Linked DNA regions of Homo sapiens. The protein of the gene in region 1 purifies or fractionates together with the protein of each later gene. This does not show direct contact. Each region holds a gene or a part of one and is shown in the gene's direction. Other genes may lie near its edges. The genes, in order: NME5 and FABP3.

Region 1 (3,831 bases):
ATGTGCAAAACTTTATACGATGATTCACTCAAGCAAGTTATCAAGATATTTAAAGGCATGTTCTTAACCCTTGAAAAAAGTAATGCTGGCTGGACGTGGTGGCTCACAACTGTGATCACAACACTTTGGGAGGCTGAAGCGGATGGATCACTTGAAGTTGGGAGTTCAAGACCAGCCTGGCCAGCATGGTAAAACCCTGTCTCTACTAAAAATACAAAATTAGCCAGGCGTGGTGGCGCACGCTTGTAATCTCAGCTACTCAGAAGGCTGAGGCAGGAGAATTACTTGAACCTGGGAGGCAGAGGTTACAGTGAGCCGAGATTGTACCACTGTACTCCAGCCTGGGTGACAGAGTGAGACTGTCTGAAAGAAAAGAAAAGAAAAAAGTAATGCTCTCTTCTTTCCCTTTTTTCTGGGGGGTGGTCACAGGGTCTCTCCATGTCACTCCAGATGGAATGCAATGGTGCAATCATAGCTCACTACAACCTTAAACTCTTGTCCTCAAGCAATCCTCCTACCTCAGCCCCTTGAGTAGCTGGGACTACAGGTGTGTACCACCATGCTCGGCTAATTTTTTAATTTTTTTGTAGAGATGGGGTCTCACTACATTACCCAGGCTGGTCTCTTTTCCCTTTTAATATAAATGGCTAATTCAAAGTTTTGCTATATTCCATTTCTTCAACAAATTTATTAAGTTGCCTACTATTTGCCATAAATGCAAAGCTGAATAAGAAGATATCCCTGCTATCAAAATGATTATATTTGAAAATAAATATACAGTCTGGGTGTGGTGGCTCACACCTGTGATTCCAACACTTTGTGAGGCTGAGGCGGGAGAATCACTTGAGTCCAGGAGTTGGAGACCAGCCTGGGCAACATAGCAAGATCTCATCTCTACAAAAAATAAAAAATTAGCTGGGCATGGTGGCCCATGTCTGTAGTCCCAGCTACTCTGGAGGCTAAAGTGGGAGGATCACTGGAGCCTAGGAGGTTAAGGCTGTTTGAGCTGTGATGGCACCAGAGTGCTCCAGCCTGGACAACAGAGTGAGACCCTGTCTCAAACAAACAAACAAATAAATAAATAAAACAAGGATGAGAGAAAACTTAAAAAACTTAAAGTTCATCCATGTAAGAAACATGAAAACACTCTTTTTATTCTCTCATTAATTTATTCAGCCCTAGCCTGGCATGGTGGCTAACACTTGTAATCCCAACACTTTGGGAGGCAGAGGCAGGAGGATTGCTTGAGCCCAGAAGTTTGAGAGCAGCCTGGGCAATATGGCAAGACCCTGTCTCTACCAAAAATAAAAAAATTAGCTGGGGGTGGTGGTGTACACCTGTGGTCCCAGCTACTTGGGAGGCTGAGGTGGGAGATTCACTTGAGCCCAGCAGGTCGAGGCCGCAGTGAGCTGCATTTGCGCTGCTGTACTTCACTTGGGTGACAGAGTGAGACCCTCTCAATAAATAAATAAATGAATAATTCACTAATGAAATTAAGAAAACAATTCCAGGGAAGAAAATATTTGCAAACCATGTATCTGATAAGGGGTTAATGTCTAAAATATATAAGGAACTCTTACAAATCAATATCCAAAAAACCCCTAAATAACCCAATTAAAAAATGGGCAAAGGACTTGAATAGATATTTTTCTAAAGAAGACATACAAATAACCAACAAGTATATGAAAAGGTGCTTAAGGCCGGGTGTGGTGGCTCACGCCTGTAATCCCAGCTCTTTGGGAGGCCGAGGCTGGCAGATCACCTGAGGTCAGGAATTCAAGACCAACCTGGTCAACAAAGTGAAGCCCTGTCTCTACTAAAAAAAAAATACAAAAAATTAGCCAGGTGTGGTGGCACGTGCCTATAATCCCAGCTACTCGGGAGGCTGAGGCAGGATAACCACTTGAACCCAGGAGGTGGAGGTTGCAGTGAGCCAAGATCGCGCCATTGCACCCCAGCCTGGGCAACAAGAACAAGACTCCATCTCAAAAAAAAAAAAAAAAAAAAAAAAAAAAGTGCTCAAAATCACTAATCATCAGGGAAATACAGATCAAAACCACGGTGAGATATCACCTCACACGTTAGGATGGCTATTATCAAAAGAAAAAAAGGTAAATATTGGCAAGCATATAGGGAAATTGGAATGCTTGTACACATTTGGTGGAGATTAAAAATGGTGCTGCCACTATGGAAGACAGTATGGAAGTTCCTCAAGAAACTAAAAATAAAACTGTTACATGATCTAACAATCCCACTGCTGGATATATATATCTGAAAGAATTGAATCAGGATCTTGAAGAGATACCTGCACCAATGAACCACAATAATGTTCATTGTGGCATTATTCACAATAACCAAGATATGGAATCAACCTAAGTGTCCATCAGTGGGTTAATGGATAAAGAAAATGTGGTGTATATACACAATGTAATACTATTCAGCCTTAAAAAGGAAGAGATTCTGTCATTTTTGACAACATGGATGAACCTGGAGGACATTATATTAAGTGAAATAAGCCAGGCACAGAAAGACAGATATCACATGATCTCACTTATATGTGGAATCTAAAAAAACTTGAACTCGGAGAGTAGAATGGTGGCCACCAGGAGCTTGCAAGAGAGAGTAGGGGATGGAAATGTTGATCAAAGGATACTTATTCCTGTGATAGTAGGAATAAGTTCAACATGGTGACTATAGTTAATAATAATGTGTTGTTGAAAATTGCTAAGACAGTAGATTTTAAGTGTTCTCACCACAAAAAAAGATAAGTATTTGAGGTAATGCATATATTAATTAGCTTGATTTGTCTTTCCATAGTGTTTACATATTTCAAAACAACATGTACACAATAAATGTATACAATATTTCTTATCTATTAAAAAATTTGTTGTGCTCACTTCAGCACATATGCTAAAATTGGAACGATACAGAGAAGATTAGCTTGGCCCCTATGCAAGGATGACATGCTTTTAAAATAAAAAGAAATTTTAAGTACACTTATAAGTTAAAAAAAATTTGGGGGACCAGGGGTGGTGGCTCATGCCTGTAATCCCAGCACTTTGGGAGCCTGACATGGGCAGATCACTTGAGGTCAGGAGTTCGAGACCAGACTAGCCAACATAGTGAAACCCCATCTCTGCTAAAAATAAAAAAAAATTAGCCTGGCATAGTGGCATGCATCTGTAATCCCAGCTACTCAGGAGGCTGAGGCAGGAGAATTGCTTGAACCCAGGAGGCAGAGGTTGCAGTGAACCGAGATCGCACCACTGCACTCCAGCCTGGGCAACAGAGCAAGACCATGTCTCAAAAAAAAAAAAAAATTAAAAAAATTTTTGTTTAATGATTAGTACCTGATAAATTGGCATAATGAACTTTATATAATATATGAATAAAACATTTGCCCATATTGAGAAAAAATTGTATACATTAATTGTGTGCAATTTTGTGTACATGAGTAATACTTCAATAAAGCTGTAAAAAGGAAAATTCCATTCACAATGACATTAAAAATAATATAATATTTAGGCACAATTTTTTTTTTTTTTTTTTTTTTTTTTTTAGAGACAGAGTTTCGCTCTTGTCACCCAGGCTGGAGTGCAGTGGCCCGATCTCAACTCACTGCAACCTCTGCCTCCTGGGTTCAAGCGATTCTCCTGCTTCAGCCTCCCGAGTAGCTGGGATTACAGGCGCCCACCACCACGCCCAGCTAATTTTTTGTATTTTTAGTAGAGACAGGGTTTCGCCACGTTGGGCAGGCTGGTCTCAAACTCCTGACTTCAGGTGATCCACCCGCCTTGGCCTCCCAAAGTGCTGGGATTACAGGTGTGAGCC
Region 2 (2,993 bases), on another chromosome or scaffold:
ACGGGCAAGAGACCACACTTGTGCGGGAGCTAATTGATGGAAAACTCATCCTGGTAAGATGGGCAACTTTGGAGCTATATCTGATTGGTTATTACTACTGCTCTTTCAGCCAAGCCTGTTCTAAAAAGCCAAGTCCTCCCCTGAGAGCTGTAGAAGCTGGGACAAGAGAGTGGTTGTGGGTCAGGGTGGTATCAGGTGGGAATTTTCTGTGTAGTGGCTTTGGACTCACACAGGCCGGAACTCAAATCTTACCTTATAGGCTACATGACTGTGGGCAAATCACCTTTTCCAAGTGCAACTGTAAAACGGGTATTAATAATACCAACCTTGTAGGGCTGCTGGGAAGCCTGTAAGAGACAGTGTATGCACAGCACAAAGCATCACTGATTGAGGAACACAGCAGGTGCTCCATGTCCTTTGTTTGCTCTTCCTGTGTTTCTACCTTGCCTCACCTCAGGAAGAAGTAGAAAACAGGGCCAAATCTGATCCCAGGCCCTCTAGGAGGGGCTCCCATTGCCTATCTCAGCATTCCCTTTCCTCTCCTCCCTAGGACTGCATTGTCACTTGCAGGGACAGGCTCGTGACTGGTGGGGACACTGAATGACAGTACAGTCCTTTCTTCCCCATTCTAGTCCTACCCCATTTTCATGCTTTCTATGTCTGGCCTACTGAAACTACTTGACTACTGCTTGGGTAGGAAGTACCACAGCCAGGCTGGCAGATCTGTTCAAGCTTGGGGACTTCACTTGGAGAATCTAGCCTTGACTGAATTCCCCCCAGACCCAGGGAGAGCAGCCAACTGTGGATTCTGCCTAACCACAGGGCCTCAGGTTTTCACCTAGGCATCTTCACTGCACACCTTCTTGGGTCAGCATAACCTGTTAACTGCATTCTTGTACTCATGTGGGACAGGGGTCCCCTTGAAGTTTGGAATGAGGTGCCTAGCTTTGGTGGGGATGTGATATGCAGGACCAAATTCTCAGTGGCAGCTGAACTATGGTGAGGCCATGGGTCTGGCTCTATGATGCCAGACCGGATAGTGGGAGGTACAGGGCTCTGGCCCTGGCACTACTCTAAGTTAGGGAAGGATTGGAGTTAGTAGCCAAACACAGTCCTTTCCTGAGTCTCTGGATATTTTTCCTATTTGTCAACTATATGCCAGGCACCATCTTAGACACTAAGGATGAAGGAAGCCAAATGGTATAAGGGAAGGAAAAACACTCAGGATCTTGACCAAATTACTTCCTCTCTAAAGGCTCGTTTTTTCCAAATCTCTAAAATAAGAATTACAATGCCTATCTTAAGGATTTGCTGTGCATATCAGAAAAAAAAAATTATGTATGTATACACACACACACACACACACACACACACACACACACATACATACATATAGCCGGCACATAGTAGGTACTCAAGTGACAATTATCAGGAGGAAGGGAGGGTAGAATGCTCGCAATGGTGTTCCTGGCTCCACCCCCCATCTCACTCTGTCTTTCCTTCCAGACACTCACCCACGGCACTGCAGTTTGCACTCGCACTTATGAGAAAGAGGCATGACCTGACTGCACTGTTGCTGACTACTACTCTGCCAATCGGCTACCCCTCGACTCAGCACCACATTGCCTCATTTCTTCCTCTGCATTTTGTACAAATCCACGAATTCTTCTGGGGTCAGGTGCCACTGACCGGGATCCAGTTCCAGTTCCCATGGTGTATGTGGTTTTTTTTTTTTTTTTTTAACTGCACTCATAGGGTGCTCTGAGGTCAATAAAGCAGAGCCAAGGCCACCCAGTTGCCTTTTTGCCTTTGGTAACATAACTCTGGGAGTCTTGGTTTATCCTGTGTGTCAGAGAGTGGGCAGAAATAACGGCCTGAAGGTTACTGAGGAAGAAGCACTGGATGGGAGACTGAAATGGACAGTCTCGGAGCCTGTTAATCAGCTGATCACCTTACACATTTAATAATAAAAGAGCTGTACCTACACGTTGCCTTTACACTGCCCCCCCTCCATGGTCAAATGACCTAGTTCAGTCAGTGATGGGGCTTCCCCAGGTTTGGCTATTGAACTGTCACTTCAGGCCCATCCTACACTGAAAGCTCTTGGGTCTGGCTGTTCTCTGTGAAATGCTGTAGTCTCTCCCTTTCCAGAATTCAGGTTCAGGGCACAGAACCCAGGCTTGTACCATGGTGGTGGGAGAAAATGACCACTGGCCAAGAGGACTGCTGACCTGTGCACCAGGCTAGTACTTATGACTACAAATTCTTACTGCTTCTCTAATCAACTCTGAGGGAAGAGGGCATCTGATCATTACAAAAGGGAGGGCTTATAAGTGATCTCCCAAGAAGGCAGTGATCTGCTAGTGCCTTTGGCTCTGTACCTCTGCTGGGCATCTCTCCAAGGTCTAAGGTAACATATTAAATGTTTTTGTCAGCTAATGCAGGCTCAGTGACTTTAAGTCTGTAAGTTACCCAGGAAGAAGGATTATAGGAAAAATAACTCAGTAAGTTTAAAACCAAACACATTTCCATTTAGTGACAGGAATTTAAGCAAGGACCTGAAGTAGAATCAACTGATTCACACAGTAGTAAATACAAAGTAGAACAATGATCTTGGCTTCGCTGTCTGGTTCAGTGGTCTGCTGGAATGCAATACACAAGTTAAGTCACACTGCAGACTGTTTTCTAGCTGTGGCCGCTGGATGCCACTTCTAGCATAGTAGAACTATGTTAGGAGGAATGGGAAAAGTGAGCACCACTTCTCACCATGTTCCCCCCTCCTGCTGCCAGTCTCTGCTCCCATGTTGGATGCAGCAGAGATCACCCACCAGTTGGCCCAGGACAGACCAATAGGAAGGGTCCAATCACTCTAACTACAGCCGAACTCACCTCCACAACAGTCTCTGTGGCTCTAGCCTGGACTCCTTTACAGGAATCCAGCTCTGGCAGTGGCAGCTGGAGAGGGTAATAGGACCTCCTGCTGAATGAAGGAA

What was found.
Region 2: the proteins of NME5 (region 1) and FABP3 purify together in Homo sapiens (affinity purification with mass spectrometry; one large-scale study listed by BioGRID and IntAct). This does not show direct contact.

Annotation. Positions count from the first base shown.
Region 1 is NC_000005.10:138,122,170-138,126,000, reverse strand, and holds part of NME5 (nucleoside diphosphate kinase homolog 5), read left to right. Parts: intron 1-3,831. UniProt on the Homo sapiens protein: Functions as part of axonemal radial spoke complexes that play an important part in the motility of sperm and cilia. Does not seem to have nucleoside diphosphate kinase (NDPK) activity.
Region 2 is NC_000001.11:31,364,453-31,367,445, reverse strand, and holds the end of FABP3 (fatty acid-binding protein, heart), read left to right. Parts: coding exon 1-53; intron 54-1,506; coding exon 1,507-1,560; 3' UTR 1,561-2,193; downstream 2,194-2,993. UniProt on the Homo sapiens protein: FABPs are thought to play a role in the intracellular transport of long-chain fatty acids and their acyl-CoA esters.